Linked DNA regions of Homo sapiens. The protein of the gene in region 1 purifies or fractionates together with the protein of each later gene. This does not show direct contact. Each region holds a gene or a part of one and is shown on either strand. Other genes may lie near its edges. The genes, in order: AMBRA1, STIP1, PSMA6, DNAJC7, CLPB, METTL3 and ARAF.

Evidence for each region.
Region 2: the proteins of AMBRA1 (region 1) and STIP1 purify together in Homo sapiens (affinity purification with mass spectrometry, with the first as the bait; 2 studies listed by BioGRID). This does not show direct contact.
Region 3: the proteins of AMBRA1 (region 1) and PSMA6 purify together in Homo sapiens (affinity purification with mass spectrometry, with the first as the bait; 2 studies listed by BioGRID). This does not show direct contact.
Region 4: the proteins of AMBRA1 (region 1) and DNAJC7 purify together in Homo sapiens (affinity purification with mass spectrometry, with the first as the bait; 2 studies listed by BioGRID). This does not show direct contact.
Region 5: the proteins of AMBRA1 (region 1) and CLPB purify together in Homo sapiens (affinity purification with mass spectrometry, with the first as the bait; 2 studies listed by BioGRID). This does not show direct contact.
Region 6: the proteins of AMBRA1 (region 1) and METTL3 purify together in Homo sapiens (affinity purification with mass spectrometry; 2 studies listed by BioGRID and IntAct, with this or other methods). This does not show direct contact.
Region 7: the proteins of AMBRA1 (region 1) and ARAF purify together in Homo sapiens (affinity purification with mass spectrometry; 2 studies listed by BioGRID). This does not show direct contact.

What each region holds. Positions count from the first base shown.
Region 1 is NC_000011.10:46,542,024-46,545,523, forward strand, and holds part of AMBRA1 (activating molecule in BECN1-regulated autophagy protein 1), read right to left. Parts: intron 2,019-3,500; coding exon 1,952-2,018; intron 1,376-1,951; coding exon 1-1,375. UniProt on the Homo sapiens protein: Substrate-recognition component of a DCX (DDB1-CUL4-X-box) E3 ubiquitin-protein ligase complex involved in cell cycle control and autophagy.
Region 2 is NC_000011.10:64,196,171-64,199,670, reverse strand, and holds part of STIP1 (stress-induced-phosphoprotein 1), read right to left. Parts: intron 2,401-3,500; coding exon 2,274-2,400; intron 2,179-2,273; coding exon 2,076-2,178; intron 1,818-2,075; coding exon 1,697-1,817; intron 1-1,696. UniProt on the Homo sapiens protein: Acts as a co-chaperone for HSP90AA1. Mediates the association of the molecular chaperones HSPA8/HSC70 and HSP90.
Region 3 is NC_000014.9:35,302,382-35,305,881, forward strand, and holds part of PSMA6 (proteasome subunit alpha type-6), read left to right. Parts: intron 1-3,500. UniProt on the Homo sapiens protein: Component of the 20S core proteasome complex involved in the proteolytic degradation of most intracellular proteins. This complex plays numerous essential roles within the cell by associating with different regulatory particles.
Region 4 is NC_000017.11:42,007,440-42,010,939, reverse strand, and holds part of DNAJC7 (dnaJ homolog subfamily C member 7), read left to right. Parts: intron 1-3,500. UniProt on the Homo sapiens protein: Acts as a co-chaperone regulating the molecular chaperones HSP70 and HSP90 in folding of steroid receptors, such as the glucocorticoid receptor and the progesterone receptor.
Region 5 is NC_000011.10:72,298,532-72,302,031, reverse strand, and holds part of CLPB (mitochondrial disaggregase), read left to right. Parts: exon of another isoform or gene 1-67; coding exon 68-229; exon of another isoform or gene 230-1,299; intron 1,300-1,570; exon of another isoform or gene 1,571-1,666; intron 1,667-1,851; exon of another isoform or gene 1,852-2,069; intron 2,070-3,500. UniProt on the Homo sapiens protein: Functions as a regulatory ATPase and participates in secretion/protein trafficking process. Has ATP-dependent protein disaggregase activity and is required to maintain the solubility of key mitochondrial proteins.
Region 6 is NC_000014.9:21,504,841-21,508,340, reverse strand, and holds part of METTL3 (N(6)-adenosine-methyltransferase catalytic subunit METTL3), read left to right. Parts: intron 1-3,500. UniProt on the Homo sapiens protein: The METTL3-METTL14 heterodimer forms a N6-methyltransferase complex that methylates adenosine residues at the N(6) position of some RNAs and regulates various processes such as the circadian clock, differentiation of embryonic and hematopoietic stem cells, cortical neurogenesis, response to DNA damage, differentiation of T-cells and primary miRNA processing.
Region 7 is NC_000023.11:47,567,705-47,571,204, reverse strand, and holds part of ARAF (serine/threonine-protein kinase A-Raf), read right to left. Parts: intron 2,488-3,500; coding exon 2,311-2,487; intron 2,219-2,310; coding exon 2,172-2,218; intron 1,667-2,171; coding exon 1,548-1,666; intron 1,313-1,547; coding exon 1,181-1,312; intron 328-1,180; coding exon 193-327; intron 1-192. UniProt on the Homo sapiens protein: Involved in the transduction of mitogenic signals from the cell membrane to the nucleus. May also regulate the TOR signaling cascade. Phosphorylates PFKFB2.

The DNA.
Region 1 (3,500 bases):
TGGACTGGGTGTAAATTCTTTCCCAGTGGCCTGTCTCCTGGTTAAAGGCCACCCCCACAGTCCTCTCCTCCTGCGGACTAGCAGAGCTGCTCAACTCCAGCCTGCTGGAGCTGGGCGTTTGGCCCTCAGTCCGCTCGAGAGGTGGCAACTGGCTGCCACTTGATGGCACACTCTCAAAGGAGCTGGGGACCTGCCAAGAGGAACTAGCCTCGCCAGAGGAGTAGTTAGGTGTGGTTCTTTCCCAGCGCAGGGTATCGTTGTTGAAGGTCAGGAGATTGTGGCAAGCACGACAGCGATTCAGGTGGCCACGGGACAGGTTGGAGTTGTTCTCACTGCTGTGTGGGGTGGGCTGGTGGGAAGGGCCTGGCCTCTCAGATTCAATGTTATTGTTGAGCATTTCCTGGGCCTGTTGGGTCTGGGGAGCTTCCCCACTCAGGCTCTGATCCAGCTCCTGAAGCCGGTCATACTCCAGAAAGAAGCGTCTCAGGTCACACTGAAGCTCATGGCGAATGCTGCCCGAGTTGTTTTGGCTGGAGCCATTCCCTCCATCTGACTCAGTTGCCAACCCTGATGCCGGAAAACCCCTCCCTTCTGTGGCTGAAGTGTACACAGATGCCTGAGAGCCACCTTCCTGCTGTCTCAGCACAGACAGCAAACTCACCGAAGAGGCACTGGTTCTGGGCGGGGGCATGGATTCCGCCTCAGAGCGGGAGTTCAGACTGAGTACTGTCCGGGTCCACTCAGATCCTGTCAACCCAGGAGCTATTTCTCGGTGATACCTAGAAGGGTGGCTAGACAGAGGCCCTCCCAAAGAGCGGCGGGTAGGACCCAGACTGAGGTTGCGGAGCGTGTTGCCGGCAGTGCTGCTCTGGACTGTACTGAAGGCAGACGGCCGGTTCAGGAGGCCCTGGTCCTGCTGCGTTGACGAGGCCTGCTCCGGGGGATGGAAGGGCTCGGTCTGTACAAAAGAAAAGGAAGGGGTAGTAGCTCTGGCAGAAGCAGGGGGGACACTGTCCTGGTGTGGCAAGAGGGAAGGAACTCGAGTGCCAGAGCAGCGGCTGCAAAGGCACAGGATCCCAAGGTGCTGGCAGCACTCAGCTGTGGGGTAACTGACCCGCTGTCGGAGCCTGATGTAAGCGGAAGTCCTGGGGCGCTCCGTGGAGGGCTGAGGGGGAGGCGGTGGGGGTGAGGGGGTAGCAGAATCTTGCACTGTGCTTTGCTCTCCCACCTGGATGCCAGAAGAGCGGGAGGACAGCATGTGCAGGAAATTGTGGAGGAGAGGCGTCCGGCGAACTGGCTGTGATTGCAGGAGGGCACGCTGACGGTAGTGGGATAATTCTGTTCCATCTATGGGGATCTCTGGTTCGTCATCACCCTGCAACGTGGACCAGCATGGGGCAGGGGGTAGAGCAAGGCAGTTAGGTAGAACCTCCAAGTAAATCAAGAAAAACTAACCACTGACAATCATCCAAGGAAAACAATGTTCATAGGTAGGAAACAACTCTCTACCCCTGAAGCACTGACAACTGGCCTCAGATTCAAAATAATCACATGGTATTAAATTTTCCACTCCCAATTAGCAGCATATCTGAATGAGTGCAGCTGACAAACCAATTGTCTTACAAAAGACATCTCCCCATGACATGGAAGCAGTGAGGGGAAGCAAAATGTCAACCAGCCAGAGGCACATGAGTGACAAGCTATCCAACACTGTCTAGTGATGATAAGGGTTACTTCTAATGAGGCAATCACTGGAGGGTTTCAGAATCGACTCTCCTGTCAAGATTATGGCTATAACCCTGAATATACAGTCTGAAGCTAGCTTTAAATCTTGACTGGAAAGATAAGACTTGGGTATTGAGAATTAAAATCCAATATAATCAGAATTGGAATACTAGTTAAGAAAAGAACTCACAGTTTAGCTGGAATTGGAACTGCTGGACTAACTTACCTGTTGATTAGAGGGGTTAACAATTGCTGTGAGTAAGTAGTGTCCAAGTGGATCAAATCTCACCAGACTAAAATCACAGAAGAAAGAGACAAAGACACACATAGAGAGATTATGTTAACTGAGAAGAGGAAACTTGTGTTTGAATTTATAGCAATCATTACTGATAACTGGTATCACTCAGGTATCCACTTCATTCAAGACTTCCAAAACTTTCAAAGAGATTAAAATAGTAACACTCAATACTTCTTGCCAGAGTAAAGGAATATGTATCACAAAAATAACGATTTCACATGAAAAACACCTAGAGTTGCCATCCCAGGAAACAGCTACCTTAAGCACACCTTTGCTCAAATACAAGAGTTCATCCTAACCGTAAAGCATAAAATGCTCTCATACTCTGCCACAGAATCAGTTCTTCCCTCATATGGCAGCTACACCGGCAAGAAGCATGAATCTTGGTGGCAATGAACAGTCCCAGCATTAAGTGACATAGCTGAAACCAGAAAATTGGCCTGTATTCGACTGGAAATCCAAGAGGACCAAAGAAACACAATGCATCAACTTTAATACAGACAATATGTTTTGATCTTGAGGACTAAATAAATGTCAATTATGTGCTTACATCTCCATCTTCCAGTTTGATAAACACAGACAACCCACCAAGGTATCTAAAATACCACCCAAACTTCTTTCAGGTTTTCCCAAAGAAGTACTATCCAAAACAGTTAGCTTTGAAACTAAAAGAGAGTCTAATGACCCTGATCTCCAAAAACCAGAAGATGAGGCCAATAAGGGAAAGCTGAAATGAACAAAATGAATGTCTCCCAGCTGATTAGTCAGCTGCTTAGAAAGCAGGAGGCGGCCAGGTGCAGTGGCTCATACCTATAATCCCAATACTTTGGGAGGCTAAAGCAGGAGGATCACTGAAGGCCAGTAGTTCGAGACTAGCCTGGGTAACACAGTGAGGCCCCGCCCCCCAAATCTCTACGAAAAAATTTAAAAATTAGCTGAGAGAGGCTGCACACACCTGTAGTCCCAGATACTCATAAGACTGAGGTGGGAGGATTGCTTGGGCCCATGAGGTCAAGGCTGCAGTAACTTGGGCCCATGAGGTCATGACTGCACAACTGTACTCCAGCCTGGGTAACAGAGCAAGACCCTGTCTCCTTAAAAAAAAAAAAAAAGCCGGGGGGGGGGGGGTGGTGGTGGGCATGGTGGCTCATGCCTGTAATCACAGCACTTTGGGAGGCTGAGGTGGGCGGATCACTTAAGGCCAGGAGTTCAAGACCATCCTGGACAACATGGTGAAACCCTATCTTTATTAAAAATACAAAAAAATGAGCCGGGCATGGTGGTGGGTGCCTGCAATCCCAGCTACTCTGGAGGCTGAGGCACGAGAATCGCTTGAACCTAGGAGGCAGAGGTCGCAGTGAGACAAGACTGCGCCACTGCACTCCACCCTGGGTGACAGAGTGACACCCTGTCTCAAAAAAAAAATAGGAGGAGCTATGAGGATGACAACTTGCCCTGAGCAGGGATAACAACCTGA
Region 2 (3,500 bases), about 18 Mb from region 1:
AATGGCGTGAACCCGGGAGGCGGAAGCTTGCAGTGAGCCGAGATCGCGCCACTGCACTCCAGCCTGGGTGACAGAGCGAGACTCCATCTCAAAAAAAAAAAAAATCAGATTAGGATTTTAATTTTCAGAGTATTGCTGGCAAGATTTTTTTCTTTTTTTTTTTTGAGATAGAGTCTCGCTCTGTCGCCCAGGCTGGAGTGCAGTGGCGCGATCTCGGCTCACTGCAAGCTCTGCCTCCCGGGTTCAACGCCATTCTCCTGCCTCAGCCTCCCGAGTAGCTGGGACTGCAGGCGCCCACCACCATACCAGGCTAATTTTTTTTATTTATTTAGTAGAGACAGAGTTTCACCGTGTTAGCCAGGATGGTCTCGATCTCCTGACCTCTTGATCCGCCCACCTCGGCCTCCCAAAGTGCTGGGATCGCAGGCGTGAGCCACTGCGACTGGCTATTGCTGGCAAGATTTTTTTTTTTGAGATGGAGTCTCACTCTCACCCAGGCTGGAGTGCAGTGGCATGATCTCGGCTCACTGCAACCTCCGCCCCACTGAGTTCAAGCGATTCTCCTGCCTCATCCTCCTGAGTAATTGGGATTACAGGCGCCTGCCACTGCGCCCAGCTAATTTTTTCGTATTTTTAGTAGAGACGGGGTTTCACCATCCTGGCCAGGCTGGTCTTGAACTCCTGACCTTGTGATCCACCCACCTCAGCCTCCCAAAGTGCTGGGATTACAGGCGTGAGCCACTGCACCCGGCTATTGCTGGCAAGATTTTAAAAGAAATTTACAGTCTTTATAAAATAGTCAAAATGTTATGTTACAAGAACTATTAACATTCTCAATGCACAGGCCCTCAATATTAACACATTTAGGGTTGAAATCTTGGCCAATACCAAAAACTGCAAAAAAAAAAAAAAAAAAACCACAAAAAAAAACACCAGATCACTTCCTACATGTTGTCACTGTTAAATGACAGAGAAAGAATCATGTAAGATGACCAAAGCCACTACCTAAAAAAAGATCAGGTTCAGCCAGGCATAGTGGCTTACGCCTATAATTCCAGCACTTTGGGAGGCTGAGGAGGGCGGATCACTTGAGTTCAGGAGTTCAAGACCAACCTGGGCAACACAGTGAGACCCCTTCTCTACAAATAAAAAAATTAGCTGGACGTGGCCAGGCGCAGTGGCCTGTAATCCCAGGACTTTGGGAGGTTGAGGTGGGTGGATCATGAGGTCAGGAGTTTGAGACCAGCCTGGTCCATATAATGAAACCCCATCTCTACTAAAAATACAAAAATTAGCCGGGCATAGTGGCGTGCACCTGTAGTCTTAGCAATTCGGGAGGCTGAGGCAGGAGAATTGCTTGAACCTGGGAGGCGGAGGTTGCAGTGAGCAGACACCATGCCACTGCACTCCAGCCTGGGTGACAAACAGACTCCATCTCAAAAAAAAAATTAGCTGGACGTGGTGGCACGTGCCTGTAATCCTAGCTACTCAGGCTGAGGTGGGAAGATCACTGAAGCCCAGGAGGTTGAGGCTGCAGTGAGCCACGATTGTGCCACTGTCTTTCAGCCTGGGTGAAAGAGTGAGACCCTATCTCAAAAAAAAAAAAAAGTCAAGTTCATTATTAAATAAAACAGTAAGAAACAATGGCTCAATTATTAGGAAAACAAGAAAATACCCCTATTCTTTTCCTACGCACCTGCTGGCATTTCTTGAGCACATCTGGGGTTCGGTGCTCTGCCAGAGACTTGTTATAGAAATGGATGGCATCCTTGTACTTTTCTTCTTTGAAGTAGGAGTTGCCAATTCGAGCATATGCTCTGATAAAGAAAGAGGGACAAGGACTGCTTAGGACAGAGAGATAAAGTCAGCTCCTGCAGAAAAACACACCTGCAGCTAGAAAGGCCCGCATCACTGCCTTCAACACCTTTTGTCTTGTCTCTGGTGACCTTCTTGCCAGCCCTTTCTTAACACAGCAGATTCTATGGCCAGCAGCCCTCCTCCCCATGCAGAGAAACTTAAGTCTTGGACAGCAAACCCTCCGCGCTACTCAAGGTATTCTGGAAGGTTGAGCCTACTTGGCAATCTGTCGATAGTCTTCTCGGTTTTCTCTCCCCACTTCAATGGCCTTCTCACAAAGCTCCCGGCACTTATTGTAGTCGCCCTTTTCAAAGTATACCGCTGCCAGGCAGGATGGTTAAGAAGGAACAGTCAGTCTTTGCTTCCTCCCTCAGAGACACCCAACAATTCCCTTGCCCCTTGTTTCTGGGCCTCACCTGCTTGATTGGTAATGTAAGTCATGTTAGTGGGGTCCAGCTCCTTGGCTTTGTCGTAATGCTTCAAGGCTGTGTCAAAGTCTTTCTTCTTGTAGGCATCGTTCCCCAGCTCTTTTTCTTTCAGTGCCTAGATGAGGTTTAGAAGTGAGTGCTGAGCAAATCTAACTCAGGTGACAAAGCAAGAATCTATGATCTGTCACAAGTTCTGAAATGCAACTAACATGAATAGAATTCTATCAAGTTCTCCTGAAGGCCTCTTCATCAGTCAGCTATAGACAATAAAGTATCAGCCGTTAGAATGAAAACTAACTTCATCTTTGCTTGCTCTGAAACTCCCCCTTTTCCACCTACTCTCCTAGATCTTTGTCAGGAAGCAGAGCGCTTCTTTAGGGGAGAGGAAATCCCTTCGACTTGAAGCAACCGGTGAGGACAGCAGAGTTTTGGACCAGGCTTTATTCTGAGGCTGCAGCAGATCTGGTGTCAGTCTTGTGGTTGCCTCAGGGTCTTAGTTGTCAGGGAACCATAGCAGAGGGGGTGGTGAGAGGATGAGAAGCGGCTGAGTGGCACGAGTCTTCAGCAAAGCTCACTACCGCCCACACTGGAGGGCCTTTTTCCAGCTGAGACACCCTAAACAACCAACGCTTACCCATTTCAAGGTGCTAAATTTGGCAACAATCTGCTGTTCCAGTTTACAAGGAGGGAAATGAAATCGTTGAGGCACATGCCTTCTGCTCTAAAAGAGTGCTGCTTAGCGGACACTCCCAACCACACACCATGTCCAGCCAGGAAGCAAAGGCCTAGGGATTGATGTGGACAACATTCTTCGGATCACGACAAGGACGTGAATTACTCTCAACTTTCCAGTCTTGCTAGGACCAACATTCACACTGGCAGCAATGAAGCCGCTGTGGTGACCACGGGAAGGGCAACTCCCGCAGCTCACTCTTTGCTACACATTACTCCTAGGAATGCTCTTGTGAAGCTTTTTTTTTTTTTTTTTTTGAGATGGAGTCTCGCTCTGTCACCCAGCCTGGAGTGTAGTGATGAGCTCTCAGCTTATTGCAACCTCTGCCTCCCGAGTTCAAGCGATTCTTCTGCCTCAGCCTCCCGAGTAGCTGGGACTACAGGCGCCCACCATGACACCTGGCTAATTTTTGTGTTTTTAGTGAAGATGAGGTTTCACCATGTTGGCCAGACTGGTCTTGAACTCCTGACCTCAGGTGATCT
Region 3 (3,500 bases), on another chromosome or scaffold:
TGGTGTTTAAACAACACACACTTATTATGTCATAGTTTCTTTATGTTTTTCATTTGTTTTTCTCTGTTTTCAAAATTTTTTCTATTTTTGGTTTTCAGACATTGGACCATAATGAATCTATATGTGATTTTCTGTTTTCATTTTGCTTGGAGTTTTCTGAGGTTCTTTAATCTGAAATTTTTTTGTCTTTTGCCATATTTTTAACATTTTTAGCCATTATTTCTTCAGATTTTGTTTTCCGATTCTTTGCTCTCCATATAGGACTCCAGTTGTACATATCTTACACATTTTGATGTAGACCCACAGATTCGTTGTTTTTTTCAACTATTTTTTCTGCCTTTTTAAGATTGGATCATTTGATACATTTTCATATTCACTCACTCTTTCCTTTCTCATCTCCATTCTACAGTTACGTCCATTTGGTGAATTTTTAAATTTTACGTATTATATTTTTCAGTTCTACAATTTCCTTTTGCTTCTTTCATTTTTTCTTTGCTGAGATTTCCTATCATTTTTCATTTTGAGAACATTTTCCATCATGTCATTGAGCATAGTTATAATGGTTGTTTTTAATTCTTTGCTAATACAGCAACATCTGGGTCGTCTCAGGATTGTTCTTTTTGAGAATTAAACACAATATTCCTGGTTTTTGTTGTTTGGTTTTGGTTTTGGTTTTTTAGTTTGACTTGATTTGTTTTTTGGTATATTGAGAGTTCCGGATTGTATCCTGGACATTTATGAATGTTATTTTATGAAGACTGTGGATTCTGTTATATTTCTCCAAAGAGTATTGACTTGTTTTGTTCTAATAGGCAGTTAATTTGGTTATTCTCAAGCTACAAAGTCTGTCTCTTGGGTGGCATCTTAAATCTCACTCGGTTTCTTTTATCCTTAACTAGGCCGCTTGGAGTCTGCCTTGTGTGTGTTGTTATGGAATCTGCTAGAGATTTGGGCAGTGTTTATATATAGAAGTTGGGACTCTCACTCTCTAGTGCTCTGGTTTCTCTCCCTTGTTTTCTGGCAGCTATTGTTACCCCAAACTGTTCTCTAGTTCTTCAGGCCAAAAAGACTGAGTTTTCTGTGGGAGTTCAGCCTTTACTGCTCTCAGATTATGAGCCACAAAAATGGGAAACTCAACTCATGCCATTCCTTTCTCCCAACTGTTGACTTCCCCTCTAGAATCTGACTTTGTGGTGTCTTTAGGTAGTTGTTGTTTTGTTTAGAGTTAGTACTTTTTATTTGTGGAGGGCTGATCTGATAGAAGCTTTATTAGCCATATCAGGATCAGAATCAAGAAGCACTTTGAAAGTTGTACAGCTAGTCCTCCATATTCAACCCATATTCATGGGTTCATCATCCATGGATTCAACCAGCTGCAGATCATAAATATTCAGGGAAAAAATTGCTCCTGTACTGAACATGTACAGATTTTTTTCTTGTCATTATTCGCTAAACAATGTAGTATAACAACTATTTAGCATTTACATTGTATTAGCTAGTGTAGTGTAAGCTAGAGATAATTTCTTTCTTTTTTTTTTTTTAAACGGAGTCTCACTCATTGTATTAGCTCGTGTAGTGTAAGCTAGAGATAATTTCTTTCTTTTTTTTTTAGACGGAGTCTCGCTCTGTAGCCCAGGCTGGAGTGTAGTGGTGCAATCTCAGCTCACTGCAACCTCCACCTCCCAGGTTCCAGCGATTTTCCTGCCTCAGCCTCCTGAGTAGCTGGGATTACAGGCACCTGCCACCATGTCTGGCTAATTTTTGTATTTTTAATAGAGATGCGGTTTCACCATGTCGGCCAGGATGGTCTTGAACTCCTGACTTCAGGTGATCTGCCTGTCTCTGCCTCCCAAAGTGCTGGGATTACAGGTGTCAGCCACCACGCCTGGCCAAGCTAGGGATAATTTCAAGTATACAGGAGGATATACATAGGCGATGTGCAAATACTGTGCCATTTTATATCAGAGACTTGAGTTTCTGTGGATTTTGGAATCCATGGGAGGTCCTAGAACCAATCCCCACAAATAGCGAGGCACCAGCTACATTTTAGAAGTTATTTGTAGTGTAGGCTGAGCGCGGTCGCTCACACCTGTAATCCCAGCATCTGGGAGGCCGAGGTGGGTGTACTACCTGAGGTCAGGAGTTCAAGACCAGCCTGGCCAACATGGCGAAACCTCGTCTCTACTAAAAATACAAAAATTAGCTGGGCGTGGTTGTGCACACCTGTAATCCCAGCTACTCGGGAGGCTCAGGCAGAATTGCTCCAACCCAGGAGGCAGGGGTTGCAGTAAGCCAAGATTGCACCACTGCACTCCAACCTGGGCGACAGAGTGAAACTCCATCTCAAAAAAAAAAAAAAAAGTTATTTGTAGTGTAATGGGATGGTAAAATTTTGCTATTATAATTAACCAATTAAATTGGGGGTTATGGCTCATACCTGCTGTAATCCCAGCTACTCCAGAAGCCGAGGCAAGAGGATCATTTGAGGCCAAGAGTTTGAGACCAGCCTGAGCAATGTAGTGAGACCCCATCTCTAAAAAATTGTTTTAAATTAGGCATGGTGATACCCACCTGTAGTCTCAGCTGCTCAGGAGACTGAAGTGGGAGGGTCTGAATCAGAAGTTTGAGGCTGTGGTGAGCTATGATTGTGCCACTGCACTCAGCCTGGGTGACAGAGCAAGATGCTGTCTCTTGCTCAATAATGATAATAATGATAAAACCAGTTAAATCCAAGCCATATTTGAAGATTTCTTTTCTTTTGTTTCTTTTTTTTTTTTTTGAAATGGGGTCTTGCTCTGTTGCCCAGGCTGGAGTACGGTGGTGTGAGCACGGCTCACTGCAGCCTCGACCTCCTGGGCTCAAGTGATCCTCTTGCCTCAGCCTCCCAAGGAACTGGGACCACAGGTGTACCACCATGCCTAGCTAACATTTTTTTGTAGAGACAGGGTCTTGCCATGTTGCCCAGGCTGGCCTGGGACTCCGGGGCTCAAGCAGTCCTCCCACCTTGGCTTCCCAAATTGCTAGGATTACAGATGTGAGCCACTGCACCCAGCTGAGGATTTCCTTTAAGGTGATTTTTCTAGAATCATTTTTGCTCTGTTCTTTTGTTCTCTCTTAAATAGTTAGCCATTTAGAAATATTTGATGATTTATTACAGTTTCTATTAAAAGAGATTCTTTAGCCTGATAGGCAGTAGCTTTCTTAGCTGGTCGTCATCACCTGTGGCTTTTTGAACAGATGAGGCCTTGGCTCAGACTCAGTGCCCAGAGTGACACTCGAAGACAGAATTTTGAAATAATCTGTTATATGTCAAAATGTAAATAATGATTGGGATTATGAATAATTATTTAAAAGTTATCTTCTGTGTTTTCATATTTTCTACCATGAGCATGTATTGATTTTTGTTGCTTTTCCCCTGATTACAAAATATGTGCCCAGGCCAGGAACAGTGGCTCATGCCTGTAATCCTAAGGTGGGAGGATCACTTGAGCCAGAGTTTG
Region 4 (3,500 bases), on another chromosome or scaffold:
TGGCAATTCCTATGTTTTACCCTCACCATGGGTAAGAATATGAGTGGTTGAGGCTTTTGAGAATGGTAATAGGAGGAATATATGACTCTCAGGTCTTATTCTGAGACGTGAAATTCTATTGGCATGTGACTTACAATTTGTGTGGGGAGGCCAGATTGTCAGATAAGCAGTGTTAACCATCTCTCTTGATTCTAATATTACTTTTGGAGAGAGTGTGAGGGGCAAGCAGGACCCTCTCTTGTTTTTGGAGTTTCTGTCCTGAGAGTTCTTCCTTGGACAGTTTGCCCTGAGACAGTTAACCACCTGTTGAACTAAGGAACCAAGACAACTTTGAGAAGTGAAATACCGTTGACAATCCAGGCTCCTCCCCACTCTAGTTCCCATCTCCACCCCACCCCACTCCACCCAAAAAAACTCAGGAAGCAGCCTTTATATATATATATTTTTGAGACAGAGTTTCATTCTTGTTGCCCAGGCTGGAGTGCAATGGCGCAATCTTGGCTCACTGCAGCCTCCGCCTCCCGGGTTCAAGCAATTCTCCTGAGTCAGCTTCCTGAGTAGCTGGAATTACAGGCATGCGCCACCACGCCCGGCTAATTTTGTATTTTTTTTTTTTTTTGTAGAGACAGGGTTTCTCCATGTTGGTCAGTCTGGTCTCGAACTCCCGACCTCAGGTGATCCACCCGCCTTGGCCTCCCAAAGTGCTGGGATTATAGGCGTGAGCCACTGCACCCGGCCTAGGAAGTAGCCTCTTTCTTTCTCTCTTTCTGTCTGTCTCTTTCTTTCTTTCTTTCTTTGTGATGGAGTCTTGCTGTGTCTCCAGGCTGGAGTGTGCAATGGCACGATCTCGGCTCACTGCAATCTCCGCTTCCTGGGTTCAAGCTATCCTCCTGCCTCAGCCTCCTGAGTAGCTGGGACTACAGTTGCATGCCACCATGCCCAGCTAATTTTTTATATTTTTAGTAGAGACGGGTTTCACCATGTTGGCCAGGATGGTCTTGATCTCATCACCTCAGGATCTGCCCGCCTCGGCCTCCCAAGTGCTGGGATTACAGGCGTGAGCCACTGCGCCAGGGCAAAGCAGCCTTTTCCTTAATTGTAGTTCCTCAGTTTTAAATTTTTGATGGGTGCTGGTGTCCCTATAGTGGGAGATGTCACAGAATAGGGAACCGAGGGATGGAAAATGGTGGGTTTGGGGATATGTTATGAAAACAAGCCTCTGGCTAATGCTGAAAAGCCAGTGACTTGTATCCTCAGAATGGTTTCAGAGAAGCATGTTTCCCAGAAGTAGCTTCATTGTTGGGTCTCCTCTCCCCAGGGATAAGTGAAGGTTAGGTAGATGTAATAGATTGTGACACCTCTCATTTAAGGACCTAAAATAAATTTCCAACTCACCGTTGAGACAAGTATTTCCAAGTGAATATGTTTCTGCCTGCAGTGATGGGATTTCTGTAGGGATTGAATTGGTTGCTTGCTTTTTCTTCCTTACTGAATAAGGCATAGCCAGCTGCATAGCCAGGCACAGCTTGCTGGCTGGTGTCCGTCCCTGCCTGAACAGTAGGGAGTGCTGCTGCTTTGTGTAGACAGTCTGTGACTCCTCTGGTGCATTTTGGGTCCCTTCTGACTCTGCCCGTGTTGAGGCTTCTCCTTGAATGTCCACCCAGAGGACAATTTGAACTGGTATGTTAAGGAATTTTCTTCATCTTCTGCCTTCTCTTTATTAGCGGAGATGTGTGGAGGGTTGTTCCATTTGTGCTTTAAAGTGAAAACTATCTATTCTGTAGGAAATTGGGTAAAGAAAGCTGAGTAGCAGATAGCTTTGCTAAAAGGTAGCAGTTGGATAGCGCTCACCTTCTATTTTTTTCTGGATGAAGCACCGAGCATAAATACCTTGCCATATTTATAGAATTATTCCAAGTCATATATCTATGGCCCGGCGTGATGGCTCACGCCTTTAATCCCAACACTTTGGAAGGCAGAGATTGGCGGATCACTTGAGGTCAGAAGTTTGAAGACCAGCCTGGCCAACATGGCAAGACCTCATCTCTACTAAAATAAACAAAGATTAGCCAGGCATGGTAGTGGGGCCCTGTAATCTCAGCTACTCAGGAGGCTGAGGCAGGAGAATCACTTGAACCTGGGAGGCAGAGGTTGCTGTGAACTGAGATCACACCACTGCACTCCAGCCTGGGCAACAAGAGTGAGAGTCTGTCTCAAAAAATATATGTCTGACCCGGCGCGGTGGCTCACGCCTGTAATCCCAGCACTTTGGGAGGCCGAGGCGGGCGGATCATGAGGTCAGGAGATTGAGACCATCCTGGCTAACACGGTGAAACCCCGTCTCTACTAAAAATACAAAAAAATTAGCTGGGCGTGGTGGCAGGCGCCTGTAGTCACAGCTACTTGGGAGGCTGAGGCAGGAGAATGGCGTGAACCTAGGAGGCGGAGCTTGCAATGAGCCGAGATGGCGCCACTGCACTCCAACCTGGGTGACAGAGCGAGACTCCGTCTCAAAAAAAAAAATCTATATCTATATATATATATCTATACCTGTGACTTCCACTTATCTATGTGAAACTTATATTGACATTTCACTTGTAGAATAGTAGATTTTTTTTTTTTTCTTTTTTGAGACGGAGTCTCACTCTTGCCCAGGCTGGAGTGCAATGGCACAGTCTCGGCTCACTGCAACCTCCGCCTCCTGGGTTCAAATAATTCTCCCGCCTCAGCCTCCCGAATAGGTGGGATTACAGGCACCCTCCATCATGCCCGGCTAATTTTTGTATTTTTGTAGAGATGGGGTTTCACCATGTTGCCTAGGCTGGTCTTGAACTTCTGACCTCAGGTGATCCACCCTCCTTGGCCTCCCAAAGTGCTGGGATTATAGACATGAGCCACCTTGCCCAGCCTAGATTTTTTTTTAAAAAAGAAACTTCTTACCGGGCACATGCCTGTAATCCCAGCTACTTGGGAGGCTGAGACAGGAGAATCAGTTGAACCTGGGAGGCGGAGGTTGCGGTGAGCTGAGATCACGCCATTGCACTCCAGCCTGGGCAACAAGAGCGAAATTCTGTCTCAAAAAAAAAAAAAAAAAAAAAAAAGGCAGTTTTTTCTGGCCAATTGTGGTGGCTCATCATGTGTGTAATCTTAGCACTTTGGGAGGCTGAGGAGGTGGATTGCCTGAGCTCAAGAGTTTGAGACCAGCCTGGGCAACATAGTGAAACCCCATCTCTACTAAAATACAAAAATTTAGCTGGGCATGGTGGTGCGTGCCTGTAGTCCCAGCTACCAGGGAGGCTGAGGCACAAGAATCGCTTGAACCTGGGAGGTGAAGATTGCAGTGAGCCGAGATCTCACCACTGCACTCTGGCCTGGGCAATAGAATGAGACTGTCTCCAAAAAAAAAGAAATTTTTTTCTTAAAGAAGAATCTAAATGATATGCTTTTGGTAAGATGGAATAGAAGTTAGGCTCCTGGGCTCCTTTTACTTTATTTTGTCA
Region 5 (3,500 bases), about 26 Mb from region 1:
GCATGCCCCATGTTGGAAACTAAAAGCACAGAAAGGCCTTCCTAGCATGTTTCCTTCCTTCTACCAGGTGGCCAAGTTTATTGGGTCTCCACCAGGCTACGTTGGCCATGAGGAGGGTGGCCAGCTGACCAAGAAGTTGAAGCAGTGCCCCAATGCTGTGGTGCTCTTTGATGAAGTAGACAAGGCCCATCCAGATGTGCTCACCATCATGCTGCAGCTGTTTGATGAGGTGAGTCACCTTGGGCCAGGATGGAGCGGGGGGACACCTGGAGATAAGGGGGACTGTGAACAGCAGAAAGCAAGGGCCCAGAGGCTAGCTGGTCATTCCTCGGCTTCCTGCTCCCGCATGTGTACATTCATTCATCCAGTAGGTGCAACTTAGCCCCTCTGCACTAGGGCCTGGGTGGGGCACTCAAGCGAAGACCAGCCCTGCCTAAGAGTTGAAATTGTGTGGCTGCTCAGCCCACCTTCTAGAGAGACATGGTATGGCAGAGGTGCCATGAGAGCGAGACATGAATTTTTAGTTCCAGCTCTGCTCCTGACTGGCTTTGTGGCCTTGGCAAGTCACTGCCCATCTCTAGGCATCAGAGATCTCATGTGACAAACGAGGAGGCTGAATCAGAGAAGCCCCAAAAATCCTTCTGCCTCAGACAGCTCTTGTTCCTCCCTGTGTGCCAAACATTGTCTCCTGCAGTTCTTTAAAATGCTAATATTGTTGCTGCTAATGGTGAGATGCTGATACTCTGATTCATGGAGCCTTTCTCTTCTGAGAATCTGAGGGTTCTCACAGACTGTCCAGTTCCCCTGCTCGTAGGGGTAAGTTCTAAATGGAGAGAAGAGCTTACTTCTATCCAGTACCTTCTGTGTACTAGACCTGTACTAAAGACGTTACAGCCATTATCACTAATCCTCACAAGGTAGGTAGAAAAATTCCTAACAGGCAAGGGAGAAATTAGCTCATTTTTTACAGATGAAGAAACTGAGGTTCAGAGAGGTTATAAAAGACATGCCTAAGGCCACAGCTGCTGTGTAAAGAGCCAAGATTGGGCTGCAGATATGTCTGATCCCAGAGCCCCAATTCTCCCCCCATACCACTGTTTACCTTGAACCAGGCGAGGGATTGCTTACGATCACGGAAGAAGATGACTTCCACCTTTTCAGGGGCCCTGCTCCATCAAGAGAGCGTGAGGAGCCAAGGACTGAACCGGGGATGAGGCCTCTCTTCTCTCATGCAGGGGCTATATTAGCTAGCACCTGGCCATGAGTCCAGCTCACCTTTCTACCTAGTCTCCTGCAGCCCTAGGAAAACAAAAAGGTGGTTTGCTTCCCATGTCATAGGAGGCCACAGGGAGGGGACTCCTCCAGACCGAACAGCACATCAGGTACCAAGCCAGGAAGATCCAGATCCAGATCTCCTACCAGCTGCTCACTGCCTTCCCCACCTGGCCCAGCCTCCTTGCCCCTGCCCGTTCCGTTGTATCTTCCTAGCCCTTCAGCTGCTCCCTGCCCCTGAACCTCTGCTGAGGAAGAAGAGACCAGTCCTTCAGAGGTCACATACTCAGTTACTCACGTGTACACTGAGGCCTCTACTCCATTCCAGCCTCTTGATGGGATTCAAGTGCACAGCTATGACCAGACCCGAATGTGCCCTCTTGGAGCTCTCTGCCTGGTAGACAGGTGGAAAGGAGACATGGTAGTAGCTGGCATTTTGCATTTTGTGTGCCATTCGCTGTCTTCAGAGGCTTATGTGTATCAATTTAACCCTTTCAACAACCCTCCAAAGCTAGCTATTATTACGGCCTCCATTGAACAGATGTGGAAACTGAAGCAAAGTAAGATTAAGTCATTTACCTGTGGTCATGCAGCTGGGGAGAGAGAATCAAGGATTCAAACCCAGGCAGCCCAGTTCTAGATCCTGCAGCTTGAATGACTGCCACGCAGCTAGGGCCAAAAGAGCGAGGTCCGTCTCAGTGAAGCACGCAAGGGACGGGACCATGCCGCTGAGGGAGGGTGAGCATCGCGGCCTGTTTGATCTCTGGTCTCCCTGGAGAGGCACCTCTGATGGCATTCTTGGCCCAAAAAACAGAAGGCAACTGCTGACTGAAGTACAATCAGCCATACATGGAAGCCCTGTCTCCCCCTCCTCCGTCACTTCACTCCACTGACTGCCTTTTAGGGGTTGATAGGAATTCCTTCCTGCAGCTGTTGTCGCCCCTTCCCCCAGCCCCAGCCTACTATAGTTTCTGATGCTCTTGGTTCCATTGACCAAAGCTGCCATCCAGGTTTACTCGATTTAGGCTCTTTGAGGATGGGCCCTTGTCATGTTCACTTGAACCATTCCCAGAGCCCACAAAGTCAGGGGAAATGTTGTATTGACTAATTTAATTCAACAGTAGTTTTAATTCAACAGTAGTTAGCAAACCTTCAAAGGGTTAGTAAGTGCTAGGTGAACAGAGTGGCGGGGCTGGCAGTAGAAACCTAATGTATAAAAGTACAGGGCATGAAACAGGCTGGCATGCTCAGGGAACTGCAGCTGGTCAGTACTGCTCGATTGCAGAGGGAAAACAAGGACAGAGTGCTAGAGACAAGGTAGGTAAGGTAAACAGGGCCCAGTTAAAATGCCAGGCACAGAAGTTTGCATTTCTCTGGTAGAGAGTAAGGAGCCTTTTAAAGACTTTAAGCAAGAAAGAAACAGTCAAATTTTCACTTTACAAAGATGCCGTGGGCAGCTGTGTAAAGAATGGATGAGAAGGGAGAGGGTCATTAACAAGGAGACTGCTGGGGAGCCCAAGCTACAGCTGGGGAGGCCATGGGCTGGAGAAACTACTAGAAGGTTGACTGAGGAGAGGAGGAGGAGCCAAGGGTGGCCAGTTGGCTGCTGCCAGTTGGCCATCAGCTAAGGCGGCGAACACAGTGGGAAGCCGCAGATTGAAGAGGAAGGTGAGGCACTGAGGTGTGGAAATGTTGAAGGTGAGATACCTGAGGGACATCCAGATGGAGATGGCCAAGGGGCCGTTCATCAGTTTTATGGGTCAGGAGTTTAGGAAAGGTCTGACTGAAAATAGCAGTTCAGGAATCCTTCAGCCCAGAGAGGTTAACGGAAGCCACAGGAATGGATGAGGTCTGTAACCCAGGGAGTGTATAATGTGCAGAGAAAAGAGGGCTATACACAGAGCCTTGGGACCTATCAGGGAAGTCAAGACAGACTCGCCAGAGAAGTAGGAGGCAAAACCAGGCCAGGCATGATGGGTCACACCTGTAATCCCAGCACTTTGGAAGGCCGAGGTGGGCAGATCACTTGAATTCAGGGGTTCGAGACCAGCTTGGGCAACATGGCAAAACCTTGTCTCTACAAAAAATACAAAAATCAGCTGGGCATAGTGACATGTGCCTGTAGTCCTCACTACTCAGGAGGCTGAGGTGGGAGGATGGCTTGAGCCTCAGAGGCTGAGGTTGCAGTGAGCAGAGATTGCACCACTGCGCTCCAACCTGGGCAACAG
Region 6 (3,500 bases), on another chromosome or scaffold:
TTAGATGTGAATATCTCTTGATTTGTATATTTAGCTAGTAATATAGCTAAGACCCTTTTCTGTGTGTGTGTGTGTGTAAGATAAGAATCTCGTTCTGTTACCCAGGCTGGAATTCAGTGGCGTGAACACAGCTTACTGCAGTCTCGACCTCAGGGCTCAAGTGATCCTCCTGCCTCAGCCTCCTCCTGAGTGGCTAGCACCACAGGTGTACCCTACCATGCCTGCCTACTTTTTAATTTTTATTTCTTTGTAGAAACAGGGCCTTGCCATGTTGCCCAGGCTGGTCTTGGACTCTTGGGCTCAAGCTATCCTCCCACCCTGGCCTCCCAAAGTGCTGGGATTACAGATGTAATCCCAGTCTAGTTAAGACTCTTATAAAAGTATTTTTGGGGTTGTAATTAAATGTATCTTGTCTTCTGACCGAGAGCTTGATCTGACCCATCATTTGGTACTGTGGTAATAGGTAAAGATGAAACATACAAATTAAACCAGAATGTCACTGTTCTTTCTGTGTTATTTTGATTATTTCAAAGAATGTATTTTGTTGAGCTTTAGGATTCTTAGGAAACCCTTGTGAAACACTGTATTGTAAGTTTATGAATCATGTTGTCATGTAAGATATAACTCAAGACTTGATAAAAGTTCAGATTATTCCATTCGTTTCTCACCGGAAATAAAAATTTGCCTACCACATCTGTTGCCCAGGCTGGAATGCAGTGGCGCGATCTCGGCTCACTGCAAGCTCCGACTGCCAGGTTCACGCCATTCTCCTGCCTCAGCCTCCCAAGTAGCTGGGACTAAAGGTGCCCACCACCATGCCTGGCTGATTTTTTTGTATCGTTTTTAGTAGAGACGGGGTTTCACAGTGTTAGCCAGGATGGTCTCGATCTCCTGACCTCGTGATCCGCCCATCTCGGCCTCTCAAATTGCTGGGATTACAGGTGTGAGCCACCGCGCCCGGCCACACCTTGTTTTTTACAGCATTACTGAAATCTGATAATTACCGACTACTGAACTGAGTGTCAAAAGACAAGGATATAAAATGAACTAAAATGTACCCACCACATCGTTAATAGTGGAAAATAATATGGGCAAAATATTGGGAGACCTTTGTTAGATTGGCATTTTTATTATTTATTTATTTATTTATTTATTTTTTGAGACAGAGTTTCGCTCTTGTTGCCCAGGCTGGAGTGCAGTGGTGCCATCTCACCTCACTGCAACCTCTGCCTCCTGGGTTCAAGCAATTCTCCTGCCTCAGCCTCCCGAGTAGTTGTGACTACAGGTGTCCACAGCCTTTGGAAGGCTAAGGCGGGTGGATCACCTGAGGTCAGGAGTTCAAGACCAGCCTGGCCAACATGGTGAAACTCTGTCTCTACTAAAAATATAAAAATTAGCCAGGTGTGGTGGCAGGTGCTTGTTGTATGTACTACAGGCACATACAACCTTGCCTGGCTAATTTTTAGTATTTTTTGGGCAAAACGCCCAACAGGGTTTTGCCATGTTGCTTAGGTTGGTCTTGGACTCCTGAGCTCAAGTGATCCTCCATCCTCAGCCTCCCAAAGTGCTGGGATTACAGGCATAAGCCTCCATGCCTGGCCTCCTTCCTTTTGAAGGATAAATAATATTCCACTGTATGTATATAACACATTTTGTTCATTCATCCATGGGTGGGCGTTTGGGTTACTTCTACCTTTTGGCTATTGTAAATAATGCTGCTATGAACCTGGGTGTATGAATATCTCTTTGAGACCCTGCTTTAATTCTTTTTTGTTTTGTTTTTTCTTGAGACGGAGTCTCGCTCTGTCACCCAGGCTGGAGTGCAGTAGCGCGATCTCGGCTCACTGCAAGCTCCACCTCCTGGGTTCACCCCATTCTCCTGCCTTAGCCTCCTGAGTAGCTGGGACTACAGGTGCCTGCCACCACGTCCGGCTAATTTTTTTGTATTTTTAGTAGAGACGGGGTTTCACCGTGTTAGCCAGGATGGTCTCGATCTCCTGACCTCGTGATCTGCCCGCCTCTGCCTCCCAAAGTGCTAGGATTACAGGTGTGAGCCAACCACGCCCGGCCGAGACCCCGCTTTAATGCTTTTGGGCATATACCCAAAAGTGGAATTGCTAGATCATATGGTAATTCTATTTTTGATTTTTGAGGAAGCGCCATCCTAATGGGTGTTATATATCTCATGTTGGTAAAGTATATTTTTTTAAAAAGAAAAATATTACTTAAAAAAATCTTTATTTTGGCCTTGGCAACAGAGCAAGACTCCGTCTCAAAAAAAAAAACTTTATTTTAATGGAAACAAACTATATTTGGCCAGGTTTAGCACATAGTAAATATGTGAAGTGCTCCAGTATATTTCTTGAGATTGAAGATGTGCATATAGATGTTGACACGTTTAAGGATTCAGCAAATTTGTAATCAGACCATATTAATTTCAGTGGTTCTCTTAATTAAAGGGTGAATCAAGTGTTATGTATTATTTTGCTAAACCGAACACATTATTTTCGTTAGATTAGAAGCAGAATGTCAGTGTAGTTGCAGCAGAGCGGAGGCATTGAGTAAATGTGTTGAATAAATAAATGAATAAATACCTTATGAAGGATTTGGAACCCAGGGATTCTTATCATTTTCTGGACAGTAACCGGTTTTAGGGATGATAAAACTTTTCCCCAAATGTCTGTATACATACAAAACTTTGCACGTGAAAAGTTTAGGGAATTTCACCTGAATAACAATTGTATTAACCAGCAGTTAAGTTTTATCCACCACATTAAACATAAGCTCCCTCCTCCTGATAACCTTAAAAAAGGTATTTTCAGCTCTAATATTCTGAATGTAATGTTGGGGAAAAAAAACCTCCCAGGAGGTGTTATTAATACAAGGATTCATAACCAGAATTACATCACCAGATATTGGAATGAGCAGTATTAAATCAGTCAGATTACCAATGAGAAAAGTCAATACCAACTTGTAAGGACTGAAATATTTATGTTAACATGGTTCTTTTTATAGATTTCTCACTTAAAAATTTTCTCACTCACTTAATTACTCAAAGAACATCTTCAGTTACTAACTGGAGAAACTGAAAATGAAAGAAGAAATGGGTGAGAGTGGAATCCTCCCACCTCAGCCTCCCCAGCAGCTGGGACTACAGGCACAGGCCACCTTGTGTGGCTAATTTTTAAAAAAATTTTCTTTAGAGACACTGGGTTTCACCATGTTCCCCTGGCTGGTCTGGAACTCCTGGGCTCAAGTGATCCTCCCACCTTGGCCTCTCACAGTGCTGGGATTACAGAGATAAGGCACCACACCAAGCCCTGAGTCAGATTTTAATAAATTCAGTTTCCATTAGAGTGGAAAATTTTCAAATTAATGAATTATTTATTTATATATTTTTTGAGACAGAGTCTTGCTCTGTCGCCCAGTCTGGAGTGCAGTGGCATGATGTTGGCTCACTGCAGCCTCTGCCTCGTGGGTTCAAGCAATTCTCCTCCTTC
Region 7 (3,500 bases), on another chromosome or scaffold:
CCCAGCCTCATGGCGAAACACACATACACACACACCCCCAACAGTCCCAGCCTCATGGTGAAACACACACACACACACACACACACACACACACTATACCTCTGAGCTTTCATATTCACATCTGCCTCCATCTCAGTCTTCCTCTATCCCAGAGTCACCCACCCAAGGTGTCCAGCCCCCTACCCAGCCCACCTGGGGGAAGAGGGGCCGCTCCTCCCGCTGGAACTTGAGGCAGTCAGACAGCAGGCGCCGCATGGCCTTGGGGCAGTTGCTGGAGATTTTGCTGAGGTCCGGGGACAGATAGCCACGGCCCACCATAAAGATAATCTGGGGGCAGACGGGGGCAGGAAAGGGGTGATCTGGGGTCAGGGGCTGGGAGGCCCAAGGAATTTTGTATTGAGGGACTTGGAAGGTTCATTTTTAGCGAGCTGGGGTACTGTCAGTATCAAGGCCCAGAGGATTCTCTGTCCTTGAGGACTTGGGAGGATTCTCTGCTTTCAGAACAGAGGGATTTAAATTTGGGGTTGTCAAGGATTGTAGGTATCTGGGGCTCAGAGGATTATAGGCCCACGGGTTTCTAGGAGGCTTAGGGACCTGGAAAGTACTGAGTCTCGGGAAAACATGGAGTTCTGGGTCTGGGGGAGCTTGTACTTCTGTGGGGGTCTGGGGCCTAGAGGGTTCTAGGTATCCCGGCCCTGGGGCCTGCTAGATACCCAAGGCCTAGGTGACTGTGGGTGTCCATGACTATTCCAGAAGCACAAAGGGGTTCTGTTTCTGGGGAAAAATGGGATGCTGGGAGAAATGAGATCTGGGCTTTGAGGATCTGGGGGATTTTGAGTACCCAGAGCAGACGACTATAGGCGTCTAGGGATACAGAGGGCTTTGGGGTATTTGGGGGCCTCAGGGGATTCTAGGTATAGAGATTCGGGGCATTTTGGACTTCAAAGATTTTTGTCCCAGAGGGCTGTGGATGTGAGAAGAGGGAAGTTGGGGTAGGGGAGACCCAGAGAATTTATTGTAAGTGTCTGGAGCCCAAGGGATTCTGGGAGTCCTTATCCTAGAAAATTTTAGGTTTCTGGGGAAAGTGTGGCATTTATCAGTGCAAAGGAGGGGATGTGGGGTATGGATGCCTGAGGGGATCCCTCAGCCCAGGGAACTGTGGGTAAGGTGTGGGGCTCACCTGGTCACGGCAGCCAATGTGGCTGTAAGGCAGTGAGCCAGTCATAAGCTCGTAGAGCACAACCCCGTAGGCATAGACGTCTGACTGGAAGCTGTAGGGGTTCGGGTCCTGCATACGGATCACCTCAGCTGCCTACAACAGGCCAGACCAGGCAGGGGGACCACGGAGGTCAGCAAATGGCTGGTCCACAGTCCCAGATCCCACTGGCCACACAGGGTACAACTCAGAGCCACCCACACGAGGTGGGACATGAGGAGTCCAGACACCCACATCTGGCACAGGCATCCCCGTCCCCACTTGGCCCCACACACCCCAATCCCGGAGCCCACGTCCCCATGTGCCCCCCATCCAGCCTGGCCCAACTCACCATCCACAGCACAGATCCTGAGGGCTGCTCCAAGGGCTGGGCCCCGCTCCATCGAGTCTTCACTGTGGCCAAGCCAAAGTCACCGATCTTCACCGTGAGCCCCTCATGTAGGAAGATGTCCGCCAGGGTCAAGGACCACTACAGGGACTCCTAATAGCCATGCCTCTCACCCTGCCTGGGAGGTTCCCATTGGTGCCCCTATACCACTCATCCCTCTGATCCTGACCAGGAGCCCCTTAATATCACGCAAACTATCCACAACCTTGACGTGGGCAGGGAACGCCTGCTAATGCCCCCCACACTCAGCCCCGCTGTGACTCCTGAACAGGAAGCCCCTCGGAGGGCATCCGAACCCACTATGCCTCTGATGTTGACCATAATGCCCTCCACAACTGTCAGACATCAGACTCTAACCAGAGTCCCCAAGAATAGTACCTGAACCAGCCACACCTCTGACTTCTAAGAGACTGCCATTAAAGCCCCCTGGCTGGCCACAGCTCTGCCACCTGGCAAGGAGCTCTGGGACACATGCCCCTCCCTTGTAATTCCCAGAACCCCCACAAGAGGCATCCTTCTAAGCCCTTGACACCCCCACTCAACCCCAGCCCAGGGACAGATAGATACTGTTAGACTTGAGATCTCGGTGGATGATGTTCTTGGCATGGAGGTAGCTGTGGGGGTGGAGGCAGGTGGCGGATTGGCTGGGGGTTACCTCATTTCCCCCACCCTTTCCCCCCACCCCTCCCCAGGCTGGGAGGCTCACTCCATGCCCTGGGCAGTCTGCCGGGCCACGTCGATGAGCTGGACCATGTCGAAGCGTGTGTCGGCCACATGCAGGTGATGGTAGAGGCTGGAGCCCTCACACCACTGTGTGATGATGGCAAATCCCGGCCGGGTCATGAAGCCCATAAACAGCAAGATGTTGACATGTCGCGTCTTCCTGCAGGCAGGGAGGGCAGTGTCAGAGGTGGGGAGGAAAAATAGCAACTGTCACTTACCGAGCATCAGGAGTGGCACTGTTCTTTACCTTCCTCGGTCATTTATTTTCACCCTGTCTTTTGGGGCACTCAGGACCAAAGCATTGCCAGATTCCATGAATTTGTGAGATGTGTTTACTGGGCTATGATTCTGTGCTGTGGGCTCATATGTGGAGCTTCCCCATCCGAGTCTCCCAACAAAAGCAGGAGGGAGGAATTGCTGCCCCTCCCCCTCCCTGCCTACAGCAGCATTTCTAATCATTAACATCCCCCACCCCTCTGACTCTGACCATTACCTGGGTCTGTGACCATCTCACAGATGAGAAAGCAGAATGCCAACCTTCCTCACTGATGTATCAATATAATATGGATAGATGCAGGATTAAAACATTGGTGATATATGATGATTAGAGCCTGTTCAGCAGCATGAGAAGCTTAGAGGTAAAGAGCTTGGAGTCTGGACTCATGTTCAAATCTAGGCCTCACCAGGTACTCAAGGTACAACCTTGGGAAAGACATTTAACCTCTCTGGGCCTCATGTTCCTCAACTGTAAAACTGATCATTGCATTAGCTACCTTATTCTCTGTAACATAATTGTGCCCATCTGACACAGAGGAAAAGCCAATGCCAACATCCCCAGGGTTGGTAGACGCTATCCAGTACTACCTGTAGTATATAGGTATACAGTACTATGCTACATAGTAACTATAGCAGCAAAAAGGAGACACCTGGCTTTCTTAGCGTGACTAGATGAATACTGTATTGATTACATATTACAGCAATTATAATAATTAAGCAATGATTAGATTATGGTGATGATGATAATATTGTTTAAATCAAGGTATTAGAATTAATGAATAACAAGAACCAACACTATAAACAGAACATTACCATTGTAGCCCAAGCAGAGGGGAAGGAAAGATGGAAGCCTTCCTGGCAATGCAGTAACAAGAATGGTGGCCCACACACAGACCC